Homo sapiens: one gene and its partners. The protein of the gene in region 1 purifies or fractionates together with the protein of each later gene. This does not show direct contact. Each region holds a gene or a part of one and is shown in the gene's direction. Other genes may lie near its edges. The genes, in order: PSTPIP1, FDFT1, SCG5, AKAP9, SUCO, CARS1 and ANAPC2.

Evidence for each region.
Region 2: the proteins of PSTPIP1 (region 1) and FDFT1 purify together in Homo sapiens (affinity purification with mass spectrometry; one large-scale study listed by BioGRID and IntAct). This does not show direct contact.
Region 3: the proteins of PSTPIP1 (region 1) and SCG5 purify together in Homo sapiens (co-immunoprecipitation; one large-scale study listed by IntAct). This does not show direct contact.
Region 4: the proteins of PSTPIP1 (region 1) and AKAP9 purify together in Homo sapiens (co-immunoprecipitation; one large-scale study listed by IntAct). This does not show direct contact.
Region 5: the proteins of PSTPIP1 (region 1) and SUCO purify together in Homo sapiens (co-immunoprecipitation; one large-scale study listed by IntAct). This does not show direct contact.
Region 6: the proteins of PSTPIP1 (region 1) and CARS1 purify together in Homo sapiens (affinity purification with mass spectrometry, with the first as the bait; one study listed by BioGRID). This does not show direct contact.
Region 7: the proteins of PSTPIP1 (region 1) and ANAPC2 purify together in Homo sapiens (co-immunoprecipitation; one large-scale study listed by IntAct). This does not show direct contact.

What each region holds. Positions count from the first base shown.
Region 1 is NC_000015.10:77,015,626-77,019,125, forward strand, and holds part of PSTPIP1 (proline-serine-threonine phosphatase-interacting protein 1), read left to right. Parts: intron 1-2,522; coding exon 2,523-2,623; intron 2,624-2,831; coding exon 2,832-2,906; intron 2,907-3,500. UniProt on the Homo sapiens protein: Involved in regulation of the actin cytoskeleton. May regulate WAS actin-bundling activity. Bridges the interaction between ABL1 and PTPN18 leading to ABL1 dephosphorylation.
Region 2 is NC_000008.11:11,805,741-11,809,240, forward strand, and holds part of FDFT1 (squalene synthase), read left to right. Parts: intron 1-2,202; exon of another isoform or gene 2,203-2,577; intron 2,578-2,727; exon of another isoform or gene 2,728-2,777; coding exon of another isoform or gene 2,778-3,053; coding exon 3,054-3,151; intron 3,152-3,400; exon of another isoform or gene 3,401-3,500. UniProt on the Homo sapiens protein: Catalyzes the condensation of 2 farnesyl pyrophosphate (FPP) moieties to form squalene. Proceeds in two distinct steps.
Region 3 is NC_000015.10:32,648,210-32,651,709, forward strand, and holds part of SCG5 (neuroendocrine protein 7B2 isoform 1 precursor), read left to right. Parts: intron 1-3,500. UniProt on the Homo sapiens protein: Acts as a molecular chaperone for PCSK2/PC2, preventing its premature activation in the regulated secretory pathway.
Region 4 is NC_000007.14:92,080,362-92,083,861, forward strand, and holds part of AKAP9 (A-kinase anchor protein 9), read left to right. Parts: intron 1-2,160; coding exon 2,161-2,301; intron 2,302-2,808; coding exon 2,809-3,294; intron 3,295-3,500. UniProt on the Homo sapiens protein: Scaffolding protein that assembles several protein kinases and phosphatases on the centrosome and Golgi apparatus. Required to maintain the integrity of the Golgi apparatus. Required for microtubule nucleation at the cis-side of the Golgi apparatus.
Region 5 is NC_000001.11:172,531,651-172,535,949, forward strand, and holds the start of SUCO (SUN domain-containing ossification factor isoform 1 precursor), read left to right. Parts: upstream 1-1,499; 5' UTR 1,500-1,526; coding exon of another isoform or gene 1,527-1,785; coding exon 1,786-1,847; intron 1,848-4,299. UniProt on the Homo sapiens protein: Required for bone modeling during late embryogenesis. Regulates type I collagen synthesis in osteoblasts during their postnatal maturation.
Region 6 is NC_000011.10:3,029,924-3,033,423, reverse strand, and holds part of CARS1 (cysteine--tRNA ligase, cytoplasmic), read left to right. Parts: intron 1-1,847; exon of another isoform or gene 1,848-3,500. UniProt on the Homo sapiens protein: Catalyzes the ATP-dependent ligation of cysteine to tRNA(Cys).
Region 7 is NC_000009.12:137,174,284-137,178,560, reverse strand, and holds the end of ANAPC2 (anaphase-promoting complex subunit 2), read left to right. Parts: intron 1-444; coding exon of another isoform or gene 445-493; intron 494-779; exon of another isoform or gene 780-2,723; coding exon 2,724-2,853; exon of another isoform or gene 2,854-3,045; coding exon of another isoform or gene 3,046-3,088; coding exon 3,089-3,324; exon of another isoform or gene 3,325-3,406; coding exon 3,407-3,619; 3' UTR 3,620-3,777; downstream 3,778-4,277. UniProt on the Homo sapiens protein: Together with the RING-H2 protein ANAPC11, constitutes the catalytic component of the anaphase promoting complex/cyclosome (APC/C), a cell cycle-regulated E3 ubiquitin ligase that controls progression through mitosis and the G1 phase of the cell cycle.

The sequences.
Region 1 (3,500 bases):
TTACAGGATGATTGGTTCATTCATTTCCTAAACACATCCTGAGCCTGACTGTCCCAGCTCAGAGCACGGAGTCAGACCCATGCCCTCGAGGAAGTGGCAGGGGTGGGGGTGAAGGAGGAGGGCGCGGGCTGGGGGAAGGGGTGCAGGGCTGGGAGGCATCGTGAGCAGCCCCTGGAGAGTCAGGCACTTCCTCGGAACATCCCAGTCCTTGTGACAGTAGCTCACTCGGCCACAGCCCCTGCCAGCAGCCCAAAGCTCTGAGCGGGGGACTGGGCGGGATCCTGGAGCCTGCAGCCTCTGGGGACTTGAGCACGGCGGTCACAGCCTGCAGGGCCTCTCGCTGCTTTCTGACTCCTCCCGAATGGCCAGCGTAGGTTCGGTTTGCTTCTCTTTCCACTCTGGGGGCCTCCATAAGGACAGGAGAAGGGTTCCCTTGGCGTCAGGGCTGGGTGTGGGGCTGGGCTCCAGGTGGCCTCTCCAGAGGTATCAGGAAGGAATGACAGGTCCCCTGAGAGTCCGGATTCTTGTCCTGACTCTGCAGCGTCAAGCAAGCCATTTCCTTCTCTGGCCTCAGTTTCCTGAGGAGTGAGGGAAGCCGCACAAGGTGGTTCCCAGTTCTCAGGGCGGGGGGGTCTGTGGCATTCTGACATGAATGCTGGTGTCCCTCCGGGCAGGTGCAGGAGGCTGAGGCCCCAGATTTGTTTTTCTTCCCAGCCGCCAGGAGCTCTGACCTGAGGGTCTGGAGTGAGGGCAGAGGCTGAGGGGTGGGAAGGGGAGGGCTGCTGGCTGCAAGCAGCTGCCCACCAAAACCACAGAAATGGAAGCCTGGTCCAAGCTAACCCAGTGATGTCAACCTGGACATGGGGGTGGGCGCCTGCCTCTGAGGCTGGGGGGACAGCTTCTGGCCTTCCAGGCTAGACACGCTGCTTGTTGCTCTGTGGACAGCTGAGCCTGGACCAGGCCCTCCTCAGGAATTTCTAGGGATGCTTATGGAGGGGGTAGGAGCTTGGGGTCCTAAGTGTCCTACAGGCCAGGAGAGTCCACCTGCTGAGGGTGGGCTGGAGTTTGTGGGGAGGGGGGGCACTGTTGGGGCAATTTATGCCATTGCTACCCCTACTTCAGATTCTTCTTAGACCTTGGAGAATACCTTCTCCTTCCAGCACCTGACTCAAATGCCTCTTCCTGCAGAGAGCTCTCCTGGATTTCGACTCCATCCCTGTTCCCCTCACACCCCTAAGGTGGCATTTGAGGGGAGACATGGGTCAGGGGAAGGAGTACCAGGCTTTACCTGAGTCATGTGTGTGCGACCCTGGAGTGTGCGTGACCTTGGAGACTGTAATGTGTGTGGTCAGGGGAGCTGGGACTTCTTCCTCCAGTCTCTGAGGCTTTAGGGGTCCTCAGGGATAGAAAGGAAGACAGACTAGGTGCGGAATGTCAGGCCTGCCTTGGTGCAGTTGGTGACAAAAATCCTGTCTCCCCAGCACCTCTCAAGCTCCCCTGGAGTAAGCCTGCGTGCAGTGCCTGGGAGAGCTCAGGGGGTTGTGGCGGGGATCCTGGCCCCGGGACCCACTCCCCAAGCCTGGGAATGTCCTGGGAGACCTCTGTTCCTTCATAGTCCTTAAAGACTACCTCCCTCCCCCAACTTCTCACACCCAGCTTCCCACACCAGCAGCTCAGACACACACCTGGAATCCACTGCACAGTGAGAAAGGAGAATTGGGTTGGCCAGGAACAACAGCCAGGGCAAGCAGGGCAAGTGCCAGGCAGCAGAGGGTAGCTGTCCCTGGAGAGTTCTCTGAGGCTCCCCACCCCACCCCAGTCCAGAGGTGAATGTAGGGTGTGCTTGCGCATGCTCTGACCTGGACTGAAGTCACCCTCCATGCCCACCTCCCTGGATCTCCGTGAGGGGGGGTTTCCTGAGCCCACAGAGAGCCCAGCGCAGCATCTGGCACATGGCTGGTGCCCAAGAAACCGCAATTGCTGTGATGGTCATGGAGACTGCACAGTGCTGAGGTGAAGGGCAGGGACCCCAGCCAGACAGCCTGGGGTTCAAGGCCAGGCCAGCCACTTTCCAGCTGGGCCGCTCTGGATACGATCACATGTCACCCTCCTACACCTCGGTTTCCCCACTTAGCTGAGATAGGGATATTGGAAGGGTGGCACTGTGAGTGAGTGAATTTCAGGCCTGGCTGTCATCAGGGGGACTTAAGGGTGGCTCTTCCCATCTGCTATCTCATGCTGATGTGTGTCCTGTCCTGTGAGCTCTCCAGATGCCAGGCCCGGCACCCCCGGCCCTGTCAGCTGGGTGGGGCTCACTTATGTACCTGTCACCTCTGCAGATGTGAGGGGACCTCCTGTGTGCCTGTGTAAAGCCAGGTCTGGAGTCCCAAGAGCTTGCCCTGAGCAGGGGAGATGGAGGCAGGAGGGAGGCTGTTCCCAGAGATGGTGGGAGGGTCCCCACAGGGCTGTGCTCAGTGTCGCCTGGTCGTGGCCCTCATGTGTCCTTCTGTCCTGTGTCACAGTGCAGGGACTTCACAGCCCACACGGGCTACGAGGTGCTGCTGCAGCGGCTTCTGGATGGCAGGAAGATGTGCAAAGACATGGAGGAGCTACTGAGGCAGAGGTGAGCTGCTGGGCAGGCCATGGGGAGCGCAGGCAGGAAGCAGGTGGCTTCCGCTCGGCTCCTGGGACAGTGGACGAGGCCCCCATCCCAGCCAAACTCTGTCAGAACACGCCCTGCTTTAAAAAACTCTTCTGTGTTCCCTCAAACCTGGGCCTCCCCCAGAGGTGGCAAGTCACTGATGATCTTTCAAATGCCCTTTTTTTTGCAGGGCCCAGGCGGAGGAGCGGTACGGGAAGGAGCTGGTGCAGATCGCACGGAAGGCAGGTGGCCAGACGGAGATCAAGTAAGATCTCCCGGGCCCTGGGGCTCACTCCTCTCCTCTGCTGGCAGTTTCTGGGCCTTTAGATGAGGTTTAGGTCTTCCTGGCATGGGGGAGGCTGGGCAGAACCAGGGTAGGTCTGGATTGCTCCTTGGTGCCTGGTTATTGGGCATTCAGGGTGAGGCCAGGTTCTGTGAGGGAGGAAGCCCGAGGGTCTGAGTTCTGGAAAGGGTCTGGGCAGGGGAGACAGGAGGCCATCCATCCTCAGTCATTTGCAGCGCAGTCTGCACCAGCCTGGGTGGCCTCCACTGAAGTCCTGAGGGGCAGGTGACAGGCGTCTCCACTGGTGGCTCAAGTCCCCTGCAGCACTGGCTCAGCATGGGCTTCAAGGATGGAGATGTAGCCAGAGACAGGGGTCCAGGAGGGGACACACCTGGGTTCCGGTGTCAGCTCCTCACCCCCCAGCTGTCTGACCATGGGCTGGCTGCTGACACACTCTGTGGCTCCGTTTCCTCATCAGTGATGGGAAAGTAACGCAGCCCTCCTCAAAGGAAGAAGTGGGCCCATGGGCTTAGCTGAGGCCTGGTTAGAGGGCAGGCCGTCAGGGAAGTGGCTCTG
Region 2 (3,500 bases), on another chromosome or scaffold:
TGTTTTGCTAAAGAAATAATTATGAGGTGCTACTTCACACTGACTAGGGTTGTATATGCATTTTATTGCCTATTTTCTAAAACACTAAAAATGCTAAATTCTGCCCCAGGTCTTGCCACAGATGTTTCAGTGGACTATGGGCCTGTGAGACCTTAAAGGGTTGATTGAGTAAGGATCACAGGTGATGTCCGCATTGTGCTTGGCATGGAGTTAAGTGCTTGATAAATGGTGGTTATCAATCTGATTATGTAAATTTATGTAAATTCAGTTCTCAAGTTTGTGGTTTTTTTCCCCTCCTGGAGAAATCTATTCTATTTTAAAGTGAGGAAGGCTCCGTGGAGGGCTGGTAGCTGGTAGCTGTTCACTTGTGGAACTTTCAGCCTGAGGCTGGAGCCCCTTCCTGGGAGTCTGGTCTTGTCGTCTTCCTGACCACCCCCACACCCTTCCTCTAAATTCCCTCCATCCCTGTTTTTCTCCCGCTTGCGAGCTTTTGGGAGTGTGCTGAATCTCAGACTGCAATAGATAAACCCAAGAGGGACAGGCACCAGTAGCCTGAGCTTGCTTTCTCCCCTGGCTCATGGGAATCAAGCAGTAGAAATTTTTAGTGAGTGTTGTTTTCCATAGTATGCTTACTAGTTGTGTCTTCCTGTTTTGTTCTTGGTGATTTGAAGAAACCTGTTTACAAGGTAAGGGACTGAAACAAATAGGTGACAGGAAAAAGAGCAGCAGGGGTACGAGCTGGAGGAGTAAGTGGCTTGGCTTGCTCTCTTTCAGAATGGAGGGCTGTATGGAAAGGAGGGGTAGTGTTCTTGAAGAGTGTTGGGGTTTAAATCTAGGGGGACCGTGTCTTGGCATTGATTGAAACTCCTGGCTTAACATCACCCCGAAACTGTTAGTTGGACTGAACATGACATTTGGCAGTGCAGTTAAAAACACTTCCTGCTGTAGCCTGGTAATGGTCAGGCTATGTGAAGAGCTGCTCTGGAGCTCAGTCCAGAGCGGGTATTCTGTTTCTTTCACTCTGAAATCCTGCCTCTCGATATTTTGAGAAGGAAGGAGTTGGTGAATTGTTTTAAAATCCTCGATGAATGTCTTCATTTATTCATGACACCACTTCTGAATATATTTATGTGCCAGACGCTGAAGTTTACTAATATTATGGTGCCCAGTAAATACTTGTTTTTACTAATATTTTTTATGGCAATAAAATGACTTTTTCAGGATTATGTGATTTAAAAGATTGACCCTTTTGGCAAAATACGTATTCATGATAGGAAATATATACAAATAAAAACAACATAGTTCACTTAAACCTCCCACCAGAGCCCAGGGTTCACTGTTACCATTCTGAAGTGACTATGGAATTTCCTAGAAGTGGATATGCCATATTTTTTTAACCACTCCTATTGGATATTTGTTTTTTATTTTTTTGAGATGGGGTCCCACTCTGCAGTGTACAATATCATAGTTCACTGTAACGTGTATCTCCTGGGCTCAAGCGATCCTCCCACCTCAGCCTCCTGAGTAGCTAGTCTTCAGTAGCTAGACTATAGGTGGGCGCCACCACACCTGGCTTTTTAAAAAATTTTTTAAAAACTTTTTTATGAACACGAGGTCTCACTATGTTGCCCAGGCTGCCCTCAAATTCCTGGGCTCAAGTGATTCTCCCACCTTGGCCTTCCGAAGTGCAGGGATTATAGGCGTGCGCCACTGCACCCGGCCCTGTTGGATAAATGATTCCAGTCTCTCCCAAAAAGAACTGTTGTAAGACTGTGGGGTGAGGGGAGGGAAGGGACAAATAGGAACCCGCCGTATTTTCCACTCCCTGTGGGCCTAAAACTGCTCTAAAAAATAGTCCATGAAAAAATACATAGTACAAACAGCAACTCTTTCTGATATGCTTGCATTTAAAATCAGGCTTTTTCTCCCTTTTGGAAAAACACAGTCCTTGTTTGCTTTAGGGAAGAGTAAAGGTCAGTGCGCTGCATTGCATTAATTTCGAAGGGAAAGATGAGAAGACATCTTGAAAGGAATGGCTGGCTTTCTAGAGAATAGTAGAGGCTTAATAGGTGTCATAGAAAAACCAGGGTTGGACAGTGGTAGTAAAACGGCAAAACAGATTTTATTCAGAAAAACTACTGCAGTAAGAGGAGAGAGACCTCGGTACAGAACTGCTCCACTGCGAATACAAAGAAAAGTAGGAATTGATGGCGGGGGAGCCGGATGTCAGTGGATGGAAAATTATTACGAGGAAACACAGGGGTGTGCATTCTTGCTGAAGGCAGGCCAGAGTTATCAGACATCACCTGAGGGATGGAGGGGGATGTGGAACCTAATCGGCTGTCTAGGGTGATCAGATACTGAAGTTGGGGGATTCTGGTCAAATCAATTTAGCAGGATTCTTGGTAAAACTGGGCGATGCAAAGACAGATGCGTTGAGTACAAAGTCCAGGCCTTATTGGGAAGAGGATTTCAGCGGAGCCCGAGTAGAGTTTGGTCTAGGGAGACTCTGTCACTGGGAGGACGAGCGAGCCGCTCGGAAGTGCGCTGGGTTCCCTTAGCGGCCAGTGGGTTCTGGTGAGAAGGGCAACAGCGGGAGGAGGCGCCGGTGCGGAGCGGGAGGCCGGGGGCGGGGCTGCGGGGCTGCGGGGCGGGCCCGTTGTGGGTCGGCCCAGCGCGTATTCGAGTAGAGGGCGAGCCCGTCCCGCCCCTCGTCGGGCGCTTCCCAGATCTGCTTGAGTCTATGGAGGAAAAACTCCGCGGGGTCCGCGATTCCCATGGCCGCAGCCGCCTGCGGCACCAAGGCCATGGCCCTCTTCAAGCGCACCTTGGTGCTGAGTCCCGCCGCGGCGCCCAGGGGCCCGGGCGCAGGCACCGCCCCGCGGGGCTGCTGCTTGCCTCCTGCCGCCTGGCCCTGCAAGGACTGGCCTCGGGGAGAGGGCGGCAGGCTGTGGAGCCGCCTGCCCCAGTCCCACTCCCACTCCCACTCCCACTCCCACTCCCACTCCTGCTCCTCGACGTCTCCCACCGCCGTGTGTGTTGTCTGCCCGCAGGACTCGCTCAGCAGCAGCCTGAAAACTTGCTACAAGTATCTCAATCAGACCAGTCGCAGTTTCGCAGCTGTTATCCAGGCGCTGGATGGGGAAATGCGGTGAGTGATGGAGGCAGCGCCTCTGGCTTGGAGGAAAGCTTGTCCGGGACCTTTGAGTGTGTTGGAAGCTACCTTTTGATATAGCGCTCAGCGTTGCAGCCTCGTTGCTGTGGCTTATCCAGAACATAGCCCGGCCCTACGTGTTTACTTTAGAAAGCCCTTCCAGGCTCTTTGCCATCTAGTAGAGTCCCTGCGGGCCCAGCCTTTCAGAGAAGAGGGGGGAGGGGGTGATGTTTATTAACTTTTTTTAGTCTTGGCAGCTGAACCTGCCTGTGAGCAGGTCGTGTATTTCTCGGCTTCCCTTATCCAACTTTGCATTTCTATTTCTAGCATATTGGGTTGATTCTTT
Region 3 (3,500 bases), about 44 Mb from region 1:
CTCAATTTTAAGTAATTTATTTCATTTTTATCTCTAAAATCCATGTGCAATTTCCTGTCTGCTTCTCTCTAGCTCTACTCCAAACACCCTGGTCCAAGATACCATCATGTCTGGCATGGAGTTTTGAAATCGCCTCCTAACTCATCTTCCTGCTTCTATTCTTGATCCCTTTTCGATTGTTCTTCACAGGAAGAACAGGAGTTAAACTTTTTTCAGGAGTTAAACTTGAAAAGTTTAAACCATATTAGTGTCATCTCCGTAGTTACAATTCCATTGGTGGCTTCCCATCGTACCCTGAATAAAAATAACCCTTCTTGCCATGACCTACGAGGATCCACAGCTCCAGTCAATCGTACTCCCTACTTTGTTCCACGCATTCTGGCCCTGAGTCACACCGGCCTCTTCCCACCTCAAGGCTATCAACACATTGGATGGGATCAACAATGGGAGGCTATCAACCTCCCATTCCTTGTGTAGCGAGTTTCAAAGTCACCCACTCAGAGAGGGCTGCCTGACTGCCCTGTCTGAGTAGCACCCCCCTACATTCTCTGTTGCAGTCTCCTTTTTTTTTTTTAAAAAAAAAACAGAGTCTCACTCTGTCCCCCAGGCTGGAGTGCAATGGTGCGATCTCGGCTCACTGCAAGCTCCGCCTCCCGGGTTCTCGCCATTCTCCTGCCTCAGCCTCCCCAGTAGCTGGGACTACAGGCGCCCGCCACCACGCCCGGCTAATTTTTTGTGTTTTTAGTAGAGACGGGGTTTCACCGTGTTAGCCTCCTGACCTCGTGATCCTCCCGCCTTGGCCTCCCAAAGTGCTGGGATTACAGGCGTGAGCCGCCATGTCCAGCCTTTTTTTTTAAAGCTCCATAGCATTTTTTGTCATTTATAATCATTGTTTGTTTTCTTGCTTATTGTTTATCTCTCCACTGGAATGTAAGCTCCATGAGGCTATATCTGCTTATTAACTGCATTATATTCCAGGCACATAGTAAGCATTCAGTAAATATTTGAGGAATTAATGTATAATATCAGGGGGAAATAAATATACCTAATGGCAATAAGTATGTAAATACTGTTTTACATCTGGATCTGTCAAGACTTTCTGCCTTTTAGTTCAAGGAAAATATTCCATTTCTATTCTGTTTTTAAAAATCTCTGCCTAGAGGTTCTTGCCATGAGCTTAGTGATAATGTGGTGAGCAAAAATGTCTGTTATCTAGAATTGACTATGACTGTGATCACCATGGTGCAAGGTTTGTGCCCTTTGTACAGCGCCTACCAAGGAGCTAGAAGGACTTTTTGCAGTCCTGGGACTAAACCAGCAGAGGGCCAACTAGACTAGAAGTTTATTTTGGAAGATTCCTGAACCCTGGTAGCCAGCCTCCTGGTCGTTAATAGCTTTAAGTGGTCGCTGGGGTAGAAGCATTTGCCAAAACATCCAGAGAGGATTGGGGGTTATGTTTAACTTCTCCGTGGGCGCCTTAAAAACAGCTTGGTAAGGAGCATCTTTCAAATGTGTAAATTCTTAGTCCAAAGCAAATAAAAACACAAAGACAAACAGGGACCTACTTGGCATTACATGAAAAAAAAGAGTGTGTATGTTTATGGCAGAGAACTCGGGTTAACCCGTAGCCGTACTATTTTCTAGCTATGTGTAATCCTGGCAACTTTCTAAGCCTAGTTCTCTCAAATAAAATCGGCCCAAATAAAATGGGCTTGTCTGGTTCGAGTTGGTGTTTGAAAAATAAAAATAAAATAAAATGGGGTTTCCAGCCCACTCTTACATGCAATCAGTGGGTGCCATTAGTAACTGAATTGCAGGCCTTCCTCCTCTCACTTTGTGGATTATCAACAACATGTTTTCAGTCTTTAATGGCTTACCCCAATCTTATTTATTTATTTATTTTTTGAGACGGAGTCTTGCTCTTTCGCCCAGGCTGGAGTGCAGTGGCGGGATCTCAGCTCACTGCAAGCTCTGCCCTCCCAGGTTCATGCCATTCTCCTGCCTCAGCCTCGCGAGTAGCTGGGACTACAGGTGCCCGCCACCACACCTGGCTAATTTTTTTTTCGTATTTTTAGTAGAGACGGGGTTTCACCATGTTAGCCAGGATGGTCTCGATCTCCTGACCTCGTGATCCGCCCATCTCGGCCTCCCAAAGTGCTGGGATTACAGGCGTGAGCCACCACGCCCGGCGCCCCAGTCTTATTTTTGATTACTCATCAGTTAGCAATACAGTTCAGATATGCTTCAGTGCACCATATATTTCAGCAGTAACCATCTTCTCCCAAGCCCACGGTTGCTCACTGGTCTCCAAGACATAGCTAAATGGCTACTGTTGTATTATCCCCAGAAACAAATAAAGCCACCAACTGTCCAGGGGACTGATTCGGAGAACCATGTGCTGTGAGATGGGAGCTCTTGGGAGTTAGAACTGGTTGTGCCAGCTGACACTGATGATGGCCTTGGATGGCCTTGGATGAATCCAACCAGAAAATGTGCTTTCGTTTTCAGAACATTAACAGCTTCAGGTAAAAGATAGGCTGCTCAGTGCCAGCTGTTCATTTTCCCCACAGTTCTAGGCCACCAGCTATCTAGCACTGTGATAACACCAGTTATCTAGCCATTAAGATAGAAATGTATAAACATTAGCATTTGATGGCTCTGAGTAATTTTAAATCCATATTGCCAAACATTAAAATACCCACGTTCTGCCGGGCGCGATGGCTCACGCCTGTAATCCCAGCACTTTGGGAGGCCGAGGCGGGCGGATCACCTGAGGTCAGAAGTTCGAGACCAGCCTGGCTAACATGGTGAAACCCCGTTTCTACTAAAAATACAAAAAATTAGCTGGGCATGGTGGCACGTGCCTGTAATCCCAGCTACTCGGGAGGCTGAGGCAGGAGAATCGCTTGAACCCTAAAGGCAGAGATTGCAGTGAGCCAAGATCGCCCATTGCACTCCAGCGTGGGCAACAAGAGCGAAACTCTGTCTCAGAAAAATAAAATAAAATAAAATACGTTCTTTTTTATAACACTGACTGTTGGACTTCAAATTTTTCACTTAGAAATAGAGACCCAAGGTTATTTTCTTAATAAATATCAAGTGGAGAAAGAGTCCTGTGGATGATAGGCTACTTGAAGAGGCAGATCCTAGGAGCCTCTACTCTGCCAAGCTTTGGCCTTGGTAAAGGAGCTGCAGTGCCTCCGCTTTGCCACAGGGTGGCAACAGTTGCTTCCCATTTGAGGATGGCGGGGTGAAGCAAACCTTGAACTGTAGGGGACACTCCGTTTCTGGCTAGTCTCTCTCTGCAGTTGGAGAAAGCAGTGCAGCTGACTCTTATGTGTCTTGACTAAAATCTGTTTCTAGGTTATCCTCACCCTGGAGGAACCAATGAGAACATTGGGCTTGTAGGCCATCTATGAATGGACTGGGACCGCCCAATGGGCCCATGCCTTTGGGGTTGCATTTTGTCCACCTTGAACTTCAATCCTTAAAGTCTCTGG
Region 4 (3,500 bases), on another chromosome or scaffold:
GCCGAGGCGGGTGGATCTTGAGGTCAGGAGATCGAGACCATCCTGTCTAACACGGTGAAACCCCGTCTCTACTAAAAATACAAAAAATTATCCGGGCGTGGTGGTGGGTGCCTGTAGTCCCAGCTACTCGGGAGGCTGAGGCAGGAGAATGCTGTGAACCCGGGAGGCAGAGCTTGCAGTGAGCCAAGATCGCGCCACTGCACACTCCAACCTGGGTGACAGAGCGAGACTCCATCTCAAAAAAAAAAAAGAAGAAGAAAAACTAGACAAACTAAATTTACGAGAGTTTATTTGAACAAAAAAGGATTCACGTATTGGGTAGCATTCAGAACCAGAGGAGTTTCACAAATCTCTTTTGTGCAACAGTGGCCAGTGAATATTTATAGACAGAACTACCAAATAAAATACAGAAATAGCTTGATTAGTTACAGTTAGGTGTTTGCCTTATTTGGACCCAGTCTGCTCAGTTGACTGCTTGTCATTAGCTAAGAGTTGGCTGTTTATTATACTCCTAAGATACGTTTTCAGTTTGCTTACGTACTCCTAAGTTAGATTGTAGTTCCTTACATAGGAACTCAAGATACAGAGACAGCCTCAGGCCAAATTTAACTTAACACTGTGTAGTCATATTATTATCACTAAAATAATGGATACAGACTGTATTTTATGGTCTTTAAATATGATATTTATTTCATTAACATCATCATTAAATGGAGCAGTCAGAAGAAACTAAGAAACATTAATTTTAGCAAATGTTCTCTAGGATTTATGGGGATTTTTTTCTTAATTTGCTTCTAATATGCATGTTATGTTATCATTCCTTTTAAGTAATAATAAGTATGAAAATATGTTAGGATTGACAAAGAATGCAGACTTTACAGAAAGAAATCTATTATTTAATAGCATCTACTGAATTAATTAATGTGTGGGTGACATATTTTACAATTTTTTTTTTTTCTTGAGACAGAGTCTCGCTCTGTCGCCCAGGCTGGAGTTCAGTGGTGTGATCTCAGCTCACTGCAGCCTCCACCTCCTGGGTTTCCAGCAATTCTCCTGCCTCGGCCTCCCAGGCGGCTGGGATTACAGACACGCACCACCACACCCGGCTAATTTATATATATATATATATATATATATTTTTTTTTTTTTAGTAGAGACGAGGTTTCTCCATGTTAGCCAAGCTGGTCTCAAACTCCTGACCTCAAGTGATCCGCCTGCCTTGGCCTCCCAAAGTGCTAGGATTACAGGTGTTAGCCACTGCGCCTGGCCAGCTTTTACAAATTTTATACCTGATAATAGATTTCATCTGTTTTAAGTAAAAATGCGTAGTTGACCTCTGTAAGTTTACTTATGAGAAGATCTGAAATCGCAGTTATTTCTTAGCATATGACAGATAGGACAAGAGCTTTTTTTTCCTCCAAATTCTCACCTTATAAATTTATAACTTTGAGTAGCTGAACTTCAGTCTTCTCCAAACACCAGAAGATTAACTGATAAATCACAATTCTATAATTATATATTTTGCAAAGAATAATAATTCCCTGGCTTTTTCCTCCTTCATTGGAACTAAGTTACTTAAGTTATAGATAATTAAAATAGTAATATAACTTTCTTTTTTTCCTGGACACAGAGTCTTGCTTTGTTGCCCAGGCTGAAGTTTAGTGGCGCAGTCTTGGCTCATTGCAACCTCTCCCTCCTGAGCAGCTGGGACTACAGGTGTGCACCACAACACCTGGCTAATTTTTGTATTTTTTGTAGAGACAGGGTTTCGCCACGTTGCCCAGACTGGCCTCAAACTCCTGGCCTCAAATGATCTACCTGTCTCAGCCTCTCAAAGTGCTGGGATTACAGGCGTGAGCCACCGTGCCTGGCCTAAAATAGTAATGTAACTTTCCATTTTAGGATGTATATGAATAACATTACTTACCTTTTATTCCCAGAAAATCATTCTTTTCTCAAGAAGAAAATCATTGTCTCAAGAATATAAGATGATGGTTCTGAAAAAGCTTCTCTGTTTTTGGAAAGAGCATTGATTTGTTCCAACTCCTTATATCTGTAGGCAGTCATTCCTTGGATGGTTTTATTAGAATGTATAAGAGCCTTGAATTTAGCTATATTTTTTTTAAATTATGTGTTTCTTGTGTTTCCGCTGTCATTCAGACAACTACTGAGCTATTTCATAGCAATGAAGAAAGTGGATTTTTTAATGAACTCGAGGCTCTTAGAGCTGAATCAGTGGCTACCAAAGCAGAACTTGCCAGTTATAAAGAAAAGGCTGAAAAACTTCAAGAAGAGCTTTTGGTAAGATAAGTAACATAGCTCCTAATTCACTCATTTCTACCTATCTTAATTACGTTTCAAAGTATATACTCTTTTATAACAAATGAGCTCCATAACTTAAAAGCTAGATAAAAAGTATTTTGTGGATTTGATGAAAACTTTCATTGTTATAAATTTCTTTACCAACATCTTCTTGCTTGGTTTTCCTGGAAATCTTTCTTAGGAGGATACTTTTTATTTCCATTCTGTTAATGAAGGAGTAGAAAGTTGTTAAAGAGAACTGTATATCCCATGAGAACCAAAAATAGAAGCTAATAAAATTATTTCATTTCTATAGTAATCTATGACCATACGTACATACAAATATATATATGTAAACTGTGAGCGTTTCTGAAATGTTTTTCCTACTACTCTGAGGAAAATGAACGTATAATCATGAATTACATTCCTCCCACACCCTTTAAATTCTACATTTAATATGGGAAGATTTTAACTGAATGCCCTACTGTTCTATTCATTACGTTTTAGGTAAAAGAAACAAATATGACATCTCTTCAGAAAGACTTAAGCCAAGTTAGGGATCACCTCGCAGAGGCAAAAGAGAAATTGTCCATTTTAGAAAAAGAAGATGAGACTGAGGTACAAGAAAGCAAAAAGGCCTGCATGTTTGAGCCACTTCCTATAAAACTGAGTAAGAGCATTGCATCCCAGACAGATGGGACTCTGAAGATCAGTAGCAGCAATCAGACTCCACAAATTCTTGTTAAAAATGCAGGAATACAAATTAATTTACAGAGTGAATGTTCCTCAGAAGAAGTTACTGAAATAATCAGTCAGTTTACTGAAAAAATTGAGAAGATGCAAGAACTACATGCTGCTGAAATTTTGGACATGGAATCCAGACATATTTCAGAAACTGAAACCTTAAAGAGGGAACACTATGTTGCCGTTCAGTTACTGAAAGAGGAATGTGGTACCTTGAAGGCAGTGATACAGTGTCTGAGAAGTAAAGAGGTATTTGGTTTTTATAATATGTGTTTTTCAACATTGTGTGGTTTTTTAAAAAAAAAAAATCAGTTTAATTCATTTTGTAGATGACAAACCAAAATGCAACTCATTAAGGCACTTGATCTTTCTAAGTAGGTGTATTATCAAGGCAAGTTTTAAACTCCTAGTACAATATTCCTTTTTTTTCTTTTGTTATACTTTAAGTTCTGGGA
Region 5 (4,299 bases), on another chromosome or scaffold:
AATGTCAATTTATCCCTACCCTTTCATTGCCCCTACTTTCTTTTAAACTTGCATATTAATCATTTGATACTGTTTTTGGGTGAGATAAATACTTGCTTCCCGCAATAGGTGACAGATGAAAGGATTTTATTGTCATATACTAAGAGTGGCATCAGCAGATAAGTGGAACTGTACCTAATTACTGCCAGAAAAGGCAGTTCAGGGTGAACTCCTTTAAAACAAAAATTATCACCCTTTGTATAATTTCTCTAACATCAAATTGACTTATATCCAAGAATCACAGAGCGGATCAAATCATTCAGTTCTTTGGGACTATAATTAACATCCAATTCAACTTAGAAGGTTCATAAGGAAATTCCGCGGCTCAAAATTAGGCGTTAGGTGGGCATTTTACTGAGGGTTTTTTCCCTACGGCCACATGAACAATAAGTAACCCGTCCTTTAAACATTTTTCACACTAAACATTATGCCATGTTCCAAGGCACAGACCATTGCAGCCTCCGTCCCCTCAGCGGCGTAAACACTTGGAATGGGCATGCTGCCCCGTTACTTAGTATTGAGAAGTGGTCACTTTTTGCTCTTCTTAGGTGAGTGTAAGCGACTGCCTTCCCCACTTTAGGTGAACCCCAGGACTTGGAGCGTCTGTGGGTGCTCCTCTAATGGGGACAACTCCTCCCTTCCGACTCCATCGCAGAGAACCCAAAGTTCGAAACCAACAGAACGAAAAGCAACGAAGCACACTTAAAGTGAGGAACCCGGCAAGCGGCGAAATTCTTGCTGAAGAGAAGAAAAAGCGAAAGGTTTTCCGCTGCAACCAATCAGATGAGAGGATTCTTGGCACGCCCCTTTCTATCTACCAATCAACATCTAGCTCAATGGGGCAGTCCATTGCCACAGGGAAAGGGCTTGGTGCAGCTTCCCTCACAACACACACGTCATTCTAGGCCATTCCACGAACTGTGCTCAAAAGAGGAAAACAGTGCAACAGTTCCAAAGCTGATCAGTCTCGTGGTGAGCAGCGAAACTATAGACTTCTCTAACAAAACCATGGATTCTAGGAGGGACTGGGAAAGAGAAAAACGAATTCTGGAAGGCAAACTACAACTCCCAAAGGCCCTTGCGCGGACTCAGCGCGCGAGGGACGAAGGGCGGTCCACTGTAAGGGGAAATGCTGAGGATCACTGGGCTCCTCCCGGCTTTCTGAACGCAAGCCAGCAAGTGGGCGGGACCTGGGGCGGGCGGAGCGGCGAGAGCATCTGCTCCTGCGCTTTGTGGTCTCCTGCCTCCGGCTTCTCCGCCTGCGACGTCGAAGGGGGCGTGGCCTGCGCAGAGGCTGGTGGGGGTGCGGGCGCCGCGGGACTTGGGTGACGCGTCCCTTTCCAGCTCAGCGGTGTGTGAGGTGTCGCGGCCCCGCCGGCGATTGGCTGTTGAGAGGCGAGTACGCGGCGGCCGTTGGTCGCTGGCCTCACGGAGCAAGGCCCCCGGCGGGCGGGGAGGATATGGGGCGGCAGTGGCGGCTGCAGGAGGCGGGCGTGGACGAGCCGGTGGCTGCAGCGGCGGCGGTCCCCGGAGTCCTGTGAAGCGCCCCTGTCCGCGCCTCTGTGGGGCCCTCAGAGAGGGCTGCCAGGACGCGAGCCACTGAGGAGCCGCTCAGCCAGCGCCATAGCCCTTAGGACTATCGGTCACATTCTCGCGCTCCTGCTCCGGCTCCTCCATCTTGGCCTCGGCAGTGGCGGCTGCCGGGAGGATGTGCCGCCTTCTGGCAGGGGGAAGAAGGAGGAGAAGATGAAGAAGCACCGGCGGGCCTTGGCCCTGGTCTCCTGCCTCTTTCTGTGCTCTCTGGTCTGGTGAGTAGCCGCGACGACAAGGGAGTTCCCGTGAGGGGAGTAAATGGGAGGGAGCAGCCCAGGTCACACCCCCTGGTCATTTTGGCTTTTAGGGTCCGGGTTTCCAAGGCCCCCGTGGAAGGGACAAACCGATTACTTCTCGACTCTCCATCTGACTGGTCTGGTAGTGCTCTGTGCGGAGATTTTCATGGTGTATTTTGGAATTTACAGAGACTCAGTGGGAGAGAGAGAGGTGCCAAGGTAGAGGGAACCACCAAGTGCCTTTGTACTCAGTTCCTCTACCCCTTGGAGACGGTGCAGGGTTTGGGGTGGGTGTTCAGATTGATGGTAAGTAAGTTGCTCCGATTTGCCGCCAGTCTTTGCGTTCTTAGTGTGGTAAGGGGATAAAGCACGTCGGATGTGATGCGTTCCGGACGTGCGATTTTAAAACGTGAGTGGTCATGAAGGTAAGAGTAATGTATAAGCAGTAGTTCTCCTGGACATTTCTCGCACAGCGTTTGATCCCAAGTACACTCGGGCCGCTGTTTTTGGAAACTTGGGGGGCGTGTGTGTATGTGTGTTATGAAGCACTTTTTCAATTGGTTTGGTGGAGAGGGTGTCTTAGATGTAGTGTGTGTAGTAGTTTTTGGTAATGCCCCTTAGTGACGGGAAGGTAAATGCTGTATTTTCAAGGCGGGAAGAGTGCTTTGTCCCTAAAGCACTCCTTAAGTTTTACGGAGTTTCTGTTAATCCCAGGCACTTCTGGAGTTTTTTGAGGAGCAGAGAAAGCTTGTAAGTCGAGGGACTGCTGTCACCGTACTTGGAAAAGCCATTCTTTCCTCCCAGGGAATTTCTTCAAAGATGTGTGACAATTGATGACTGAAAAGATGCTTCTTCAGTCTAGGCGATTTGCTGTTTGTTATATTAAAATAGAAATTAAGTTTCCTGTTTTGCTTATTTCTGCAAAGCACCAACACTATTTTCATTTTTATGGATGCCTTATGGATTCCAGAAGCACTGAAATTGTAGAGTTGTTGCTCACATAAAATAATACATAAACAAGGGGAAGAGAAAACACTCGCCTGGCTGAGGGATTTTTATTGGAAGAATGATAGAAGTTTTTGAGAACAAAAACAATTGACTTATTACCTTTCATTCTGAATCCTTTTAATACCCGTCTCCTGTTTTTAATAAAATCCTCCCCTTTCTACTTACTGTGTTGGGTACGGAGAAGTGCCTGTAAGAGATAAATCCACTCACCTCATTTTAAATTTAAATTTGTAGATACTGAAGCTTGTATTCATTTCCATCTCTTTCTGGGGCTGCCTAGTTATATTTGTAGACTGTGTATTTTCTTTCCTCTTTCTTCTTGGTCTTGCCCATCTTTAAACCATGTTATTCATCATCAAAAGTTTCTGAAATGGCTAATAAGGAAAAGGTGAACACTTTCATTCAAGTTTAAAAACACACCAGTATCTCTGGCTTTTTTTAATTTTTTAATTGGATGGTGTAAACGAAATCAAGCAATAGAATGTGATTCTTACAATCATTTGTAAATTTAAGTTAACTCTGCTTCTATTTCTTTTGGGAATTTCTGGCTATCTTTTGATTAAGCTAACCCTCAGTATGTTTTCTCACCTTCAATCATTAGCTCTAGTGAAGAGCTAATGAATTTCCCTGTTAGGGAACAAATCGGTTGGCCTGGTATTGAAAGTAGTAGTAATAAACTTCTGTCAAGTTTTTTAACTCCTAGTGAGGAAAATGGATGTGGAGAGTTTAAGAGTGTGAACATTTTAAGAAACTTTAGCTTAAGAAACTATTGGGTTAGTATATTTTGAGATTTGTTTAGACTGCCAAATTTAGAGACATTTTAATTATTCTTTAGCAAAACGATTAAAAGGCATTAAAATAGGACATTAAGGCTTAAAGGGTTTTTTAAAGGGTGATGATGATGAATGAGATTGGGGAAGAGGAGTGGTACCTGGTGCTGATTGGCAAAGGGTATGTTTTTTCTTTGAAGCCTCTGCTTTTGTGCCAAGTTGGAATTAATGGCACTTAATGGATTTCTAACTTTTGCTGCAATCTGGTGTGGTATTTCTTTTCCCAACAACCTCATTCCCTTTAACAGAAATGGCTACCAACAAGTCCTAGGGTTAGATAAAACGTTTGCAAGAGTTGATGAGTGCCTTTTAGTAGCCACTTTTGTCTCTTTTGTTATTCACAAATTGTCTCAAAATTTTGTGATCCGTTTCTGTTTTGTACATTGAGTGCTGTATGTCTGTTCTACAGTATTCTAGTTTCTGAGGTTTCCCCTCTCATGCTACCAATATTACTGTGTTATGTTTACTATCATAATTTTGTAGATCTTGATTATGTCTCCCCTCTGCTTTTGTCTTGTAGCCTTGAGTACTAACCTTAGATTATGTTTACAGAAAAACCATTTCATCTATGTCATTATTAATTTTTGTTGCTG
Region 6 (3,500 bases), on another chromosome or scaffold:
TTTCATATTAACTTATTGTTATTCGCTTATAACTTAATTACCCAGTGGTTGGAGAGTATGGTCTGTCCCAATCTGGATCTGTGAACAGAGACTTGTGTTGTGGCCCCTGTGTGTGCTGGTTTCTGAATGTTCTCTTGTGCTTGAGAAGATTCCGTCTAATCCCCTAGTGCACAGTTCCACATGCCATCCACTTAGCTATACCTGTTGGCCGTGTGGTTAATATTTTGTGTGTCTTTGCTAATTCTTCCTGTTGGCTTAGCCTATTCATACAGTTTCTTAAAAAAACAAAAACAAGAACCAAAACAAAACTCCCCCTCTGATGATGAATTTGTCTGTTTCTCCTTATTTTTTCACTTTTTAGAAAAAAAAAAAGTTTTTTTTTAGAGGAGATTCTGGTTCACATCAGAATTGAGAGGCTATATATATCCCCTACCCACCTCACCGTCACCTCCCCCAGCATCCGCACCCACCAGGGGGTACGTTTCTTACAGTCAGCGAACCTGCTCTGAGCGTCATTACCCTGAGTCCGTGGTTTACTTTAGGGTTCACTCTCAGGATTGTTACATCCTATGGGTTTGGACAAATACTATCTCGTATCCACCATTACGGTATCACACAGAATAGTTTCACTGCCCTGAACATCCTCTGTGCTCCAGCTATTATCCCTTCCTCCCCACCCCAACTCCTGACAGCAGCTAGTCTTTCTACTGTCTCCGTAGTTTTGCCTTTCCCAGAATGTCACATACTTGGAATCCTACAGTGTTGCAGCCATTTCAGATCGGAAAAAATTTTTAAACAGAATACTTCACCTCTGATCACCAAAATGCATAGGGATTTCTTCCTCACCCAGCCCACCTCTGCCCCGACAACCAGTCAGTTCTCTAGCAGGCATCAGCTGGGAGTCCTAAAATTTAATTCATTTCCAACACAGTTTGCCAGGAGGAAGCGTCAGATCTGACAGGTTGAAGGGCTCAGTCCCATAAGACTGTCCCCAATTCAGATGCCAGTTGAAAGTAGTAGTTTGTTACCTATACTTCTGACCTACCAGTTATTGGCCGGGCGCGGTGGCTCACGCCTGAACTCCCAGCACTTTGGGAGGCCGAGATGGGCAGATCATGAGGTCAAGAGATTGAGACCATCCCGGCCAACATGGTGAAACCCCGTCTCTACTGACAATGCAAACATTAGCTGGGCGTGGCGTCACGTGACTGTAATCCCTTCTACTCGGGAGGCTGAGGCAGGAGAATTGCTTGAACCCGGGAGGCGGAGGTTGCAGTGAGCTGAGATTGCACTACTGCACTCCAGCCTGGTGACAGAGCTAGACTCCATCAAGGAAGGAAGGAAGGAAGGAAGGAAGGAAGGAGGGAGGGAGGGAGGGAGGGAGGGAGGGAGGGAGGGAGGGAGGGAGGGAGGGAGGGAGGGAGGGAAGGAAGGAAGGAGAAAGAAAAGAACAGAGTGCACTGGTATATTTTGGAATGCTTCCTTTCCCTTCTTGCTATTGGAAACACAAGGGGATTTTTCTCCAATATTCACTGTGAGGCCTGGTCAGGTTCCTAGAGGTAAAACTCACAAAAGTATGGGGTCCCCTATGACTGGGTCCCTGGGGTTTTCAACTGTCTGACTTGCCTACACCAAGCCTGCAGCAATCTCTGTTACAGTCCTGGTTTTCCTCCCCCAACACTGGTTCCCACAGAATTTTCAGCTTATGAGTCTCTGCTCTGGTAAGTTGTGATTGTCTGTCTTCTCCTGTTGGTCTCTCCAGTTTAGGGGGCAGTGGTTTGCCCTATGACCTAACTTCTCTTATGGATCTAAGAAGAGTTGGTTTTTCAGTTTATTCAGCTTTTTACCTGTTGTTAGGTAGAGTGGCAACTTCCAAGCTCCTGACTTATGTGAAACTGGAAAGCAGAAGTCTCTTATCATTTTGTATTTATGCATTTTGATTGTTGATCTGTATGCTTGACCAGCAACATTGAGTATTCCAGCCCTATCATCAGGCAAGTTTTAGAAACATTATCTTAGAAGTATTGGTGGGAAGCAGCTTTTGTCTATCTTGAAGTGTGTATATTTCCCTGTTTGTTCAAGGTGGTTGCCGTCTTCTGGCTTCCATTGTTGGCTGTTGTTGAAAACATCGGCTGCCCTTCAAATTACTTTTCTTTGATTGGTAAATATGTCTTTTCTATCAGGCGCATTATAAAAGTATTCTCTCTTTTCAGTTTTCTGCTATTTCACAAAGACATTGTAAGAGATTTGTTTTTACTTATCCTATTGGATATTTTGTGTGCTTCCCGGGGCTGGATTGTTGCATGGGTTTTGAGAAATTCTCAGATGTGTCTTCAAGTATCACCTTTACTCGATTCCCTCTCTCCTCTCCTCTGGGTTGCCAATTAGATGTGAGTCTCATCATTTCATCTCATCCTTCTCCGTGTCTCCTAACCTGTCTTTCATAAAATTTTCCTTCTTGTCTCTGTTTCATTTTGGATGACTTCTTCAGTTCTGTCTTCCTGTTCACAAATTCTCCTTCAGACAGGAAGTGAAACAGTCACTCAGTAGGATGGATAAGACTGTTTCGCCTGTTAATAGATTTCATCTCTGCAGGTTCCGTTTGCTTCTATTTTCAGATCCAGCTGGGCCGCTTTGCTGGCCTGTCCCTGCTTGCTATTGCCTGTCATCTGGGAGTCCGTCCTTATGTCTTTAAGCCTGTAATATTTACTGGATTTTATTATGTATCTGATAACTCCTCCATCTGAAGCGTCCATCTGTTTGTCGTTTCTGCTGACTCCCATTCACAGTTGCTCATGTTCTTGGGTGTTTGGTGACCTCGATTAGGATGTCGGTTCTTGCTGGGTCGTGACCTTGGTGATCCTGAGGGCCAGGATGCGCGTTTCCCTGTACTTGGGGCAGGCCCAGTGTTTGCTTTTCGGGCAGCAGACTTGGCAGCCTTTGCTCCCCAGAGCGCACACCCTGCTTTTGGTGCTTGTCTGCCCACTGGATGCCCTGCCGCGGTGGGGAGGGTGTGCTCATTCCTGCAGACGTGCCTTGCCACTTGCAGGCCTGCAATACATTTAACACATCTGTTTGATTCAGGAGCTGTAGGCAGGGATTGCATCAGGAACCTGGCCCACGTGGGCCCTGTGCCCCTTCTCTGTCTGTGTTGTGGCTTTGTCCACCCTGTGTCCTTGCTGTCTGCCAGGCCATTTTCCTACACTTTTTCTCTCCAGCCTTGGTTCTTTGCCTCCCCTTCCCATAGTAGGCCACAGACCATCTGCTTGGTGTCACGCCCTGTCCTGGGTCCACGTCAGTGCATTGAGACTCTAGGTCCCTCCAAGATGGCGGAGGGTAGACATTTCTCTTTTCTGACATGAGTGCAGTTGGGGCGTGTCTCATGCCTAGAGTGTGTGTGGTCAGGACCTGGTTCACATAGGTGCCATGTTTTGCTGGGATTGGTGGTTTTTACTCCCATTCCATGGTGTGTCAAGTGGGGATGGCATCTTCAGTCAATG
Region 7 (4,277 bases), on another chromosome or scaffold:
GGTCCCTTTCCCCCTGCCCCTCTGGCTGCCTCAGGCTCTCCAGCGTTGCTTCCAGGCAAGGCCCCAATGGCCTCCCTCCAGGGTCCTGCCTTGGGTCCCAGGCATGACTCAGCCACTTCCTGTTGCTCAGGCCTGATGTGCTGGGACAGCCACACTCTAGTGCCCTTTGTCTTAACTTCAGTGGGACACAGGAGTGGCTCAGGGAGGCCCCGGGGCTGTGCTGAGAGGTCCCACCAGCAGAGCTCCTGGCCGAGCGACCTTGTTGGACACGTGGCTGGCCATGCAGCCCACAGCGTCACCCCTGAGCCCTTGCATGTGTCCTGCGGCAGGCTGACCAGTGGCGGCGTTTGTGGAGGTCATGGCCTTGGAGCCAGAACTAGGACCTAGCAAGCCACTGACTCCACTTCCATTTTCTGTCCATAAAGAGGGGTTTGTTTCCATTAGAAGCTGCCGGATCCTGGAAGGACTCAGGAGCCCTTGGCCCACAGAGCAGGTGTGTCAGTGCCCCAGTGCTACCAGAACAAAGTACCACAAACCAGCGGGCTTAAAAGAAACATATCATTTTACAGAAGTCAGAAGTCTAAAGTCAGGGTCAGCAGGGCCCTCCGAAGGCTCTAGGGGAGGCTGCTTCCTCCCCTCTTCCAGCTTCTGGGGGCTCCAGGAGCTCCGGGGCCTGTGGGTGCCTCGCTCTGGTCTCTGCCGCGTCGCCCGTGATGTTCCCCCGTGTCTCTGTTCCTATCTCCCTCTTAGAAGAACACTCTCTCTATTCCAGGGTGACGTCATCTTAATTATATCTTTAATGACCGTATTTCCAAATAAGATCTCATCAGAGGCACCGGGAGTTAGGGGTTCATGTGTCATTTTTCGAGGGGCACAATTCAGTGCATGACAATTTGCCCCATGGTGGGCCCCTCCCACGTGCAAGTGACAGCCCCAGTGTCCCCAAAAGTCTTCACCATTTCAGCATCAACTCCAAGTCCAAAATCTCATCTAACTACCATCCACACAAAGTTCCACACACATCTCAGCCTGTAAATGCATCTTAACGAGGTCCAGGTGAGGCTGGAGTGTGCGCCATTCCTCTACGTAAATAGATCTAAACAAGGTACAGGTGAGGCTGGAGTGCGCGCCATTCCTCCAGCTGGGACGCCGTGAAATCAGCCAACAGATGATCTGTTTCAAAAGTTCAGCCGTAAGACAAGCATACACATTCCCACCCCAAAAGGGAAAACTGGGAGGAAAAAGGACAGCGAGTCCAAACCCAGCAGCCGAAATTCCACTTGACTTCCAGGCCTGCGAATCCTCTTTGGCCCCCTGCTCCGTCAGCCTTGGCCTCGGCGGCTCTGCTCTTGGAGCCTGCCTTCCTTTCACTCCAGCCTGGCAGCACTTCTGCGGGTGTAAAATTCTCACACCTTGTTGGCTTATGCAGCTCACCAGTGCCGAAGCCTTCAGACAGGCGGGTCCGCAGCCCTTTCCCGGAGGCCCCACCTGTCCCTGTCTGCTGCTGAGATGGTTAGTTGGATACACAGGTCACACCTCATGTCTAGCAAACCCTGGTCCAGCCACACCCTTGGCCACGTCTCAGAGCTGCCTGGATAGAGTATTTTTCAGATCCCCAAGGGCTGGTGCCTTTTTGCTTAATGGTCCCTGCCTCACTGATTGTTTCCCTCTTGCATTCTGCTATAAGTAGCAAGGAGAAGCCAGGTGGCACCTTCCACACTGCTTGGAAATCTCAGCTTGATGTCCAGGCTCATCAGCTGCAGGTCCCACTTCGCACCCAACAGCAGAGCAGCAGCCAGCCAAGCTCTCTGCTGCCTCCTCCGGTTCCCAGTAGCACGGTCATTTCCATCTGAGACCTCACTGGAAGCACCTGTTGGGTCGGCATTGCTGCCGACATCCAGTCTGTGATGCTGTGTGCATTCTCCAAGACGGCGGCAGCTCTCCTCTTCCAGCCATTTCCAGGCTTGTCTTCATGCCTTTCTACCAGCAGTCGTGCAGGCCTCACCAGTTCTTCCAGCCTCTCCCCATCACCCACTTCCAAAGCTGCTGCCACAGTTCTTGGTGTTAGGTTTTGGCAGCACCCCTCCTGGCCCTTCCTGGTACCAAAATCTGTTCGTTTACTGTGGCTGCTGTAACAAAGTGTCACAAACTGGGTGGCTTAAAAAACAGAAATAGATTGTCTTAGTTTTGGAGGCTGGAAGTCCAAGATGAAAGTACTGGCAGCCCCGTTCCCTCTGAACCCTCTTAGAGACCTCCGTTGCCCCCCAGCTTCTGGTGTTTGCCACAGCCCTTGGTGTTTCTTGGCTTGTGGCCGCGTTGCTCCAGGTGGTCTCTGTCTTCGTGTGGCCCCCTCCCCGCCTGCCTGTGTCTTCCTATCTTTCCTTTTCTTAGAAGGACCCCAGTCAGTTGGGTTAGGATGCACCTCAGTTACATCTGCATCAACCCTGTTTGCAAATATGGCCACATTTCCAAGCACTGGGGGTCAGGAGGCCCCTGTAGCCTTTTCGGGACACACCTTATGATGCTGGCCCCATTGCCCTTCCATGGTGGCTGAGCAGGTGGGGACCCCACCCAGTCCTGTGCTCTCGCTGCTCACCTGCCTGCCAGGGTGGGGTGGGGCAGGTGGCTCTGGGAGCCCCTTTCTCACTGGTACCAGGTGGCAGAGCCCACGGGCCTGAGCGCCCTGCAGCCGAGCTGCCCGTGCTGACCCTGGCCCTCCTTAGGCCATGCGGACCCTCAGTTGGAAGCACACCCTGGGCCTGGTGACCATGGACGTGGAGCTGGCCGACCGCACGCTGTCTGTGGCGGTCACCCCAGTACAGGCGGTGATCTTGCTGTATTTTCAGGACCAAGGTGAGCCCACCAGCCCCTAGCTGGCCTGCCCCGGCCACACGGCCCAGCTGTGGGTGAGGGGCTGTTCCCCAGTGAGGGTGTGGTTTGGGGCAGCTGCGCCAGCAGGCGGCACCCTTCCCTTTCCCACGGGCAAGGCAGGGTGGCCCGGGAGCCCCCCGACCTCTCGGCTGACGGGAGGCAGGGGAGGTGCAGCCCGTGCCCAGGCTGCCCAGCGTCCCGGTGACTCTGCACGCAGCCAGCTGGACCCTGGAGGAACTGAGCAAGGCGGTGAAGATGCCCGTGGCGCTGCTGCGGCGGCGGATGTCCGTGTGGCTGCAGCAGGGTGTGCTGCGTGAGGAGCCCCCCGGCACCTTCTCTGTCATTGAGGAGGAGCGGCCTCAGGACCGGGACAACATGGTGCTCATTGACAGTGACGACGAGAGCGACTCCGGCATGGCCTCCCAGGCCGACCAGAAGGAGGAGGAGCTGCTGGTGCGCGTGCAGGCCCCACGGGGGGCCAGGGGGCGGGGGCGAGGCCTGCAGGTGCCTGACGGGGGCTGGCCTGTGTCCGCAGCTCTTCTGGACGTACATCCAGGCCATGCTGACCAACCTGGAGAGCCTCTCACTGGATCGTATCTACAACATGCTCCGCATGTTTGTGGTGACTGGGCCTGCACTGGCCGAGATTGACCTGCAGGAGCTGCAGGGCTACCTGCAGAAGAAGGTGCGGGACCAGCAGCTCGTCTACTCGGCCGGCGTCTACCGCCTGCCCAAGAACTGCAGCTGACACATCGCCCGCCCGCCCGCCCGCCCGCCAGGCGCTGCCCTGCAGGTGCTCTCGTCCTCCCGTGCCAGCCCCCGCCCGCCCGTGTCCCAGAATGCACTGCTGAGGAGCATGCCCACCCCCACCCCCGCAGTGTGCAGATTAAAGCAAGTCAGATCATCCTTTTCTGTCCTGGTGGCTTTGTGGGGCCCCCCAGGATCCTCCTCTAGCCTGGGCCTCTCTCTCAGCCTGGCAGGGCCTGCTCCTCAGCAGCAGGTGAGGGGCCACCTAGGCCTACACATCTGCACTGGGAATGTAGCCTCCTGAGAGAATCCCGGGCCGCCCCCGACCCAGGGTGCTCAGGGAGCGGCACGTGAAGGTCCACGTCACGCCCGGGCCACGGCTCAGGCAGCCACGTCCTAGGGCTTAGTGCTTGCTACCCGCCAGACCTCCAGCTCCATTCCTGCGCCTCTGGCCTTTAGAAGGAGCCCTGGGGTCACCCTCTGCTCAGCCTGTGCCCACCTCCACACGCTCGGCCAGGAGGTCTCGGGCGAGGTTGGGACGTTGTGCGGGTTCGGTTGGAATTGCTGAGGCTGGCGAATGACCTCTAGGCCAACACGCCTCGTCTCTGGCAGTGAGGCTCTGCCGAAGGCTGTGCCCTGGTGGCCAGAGGGACTGGGCA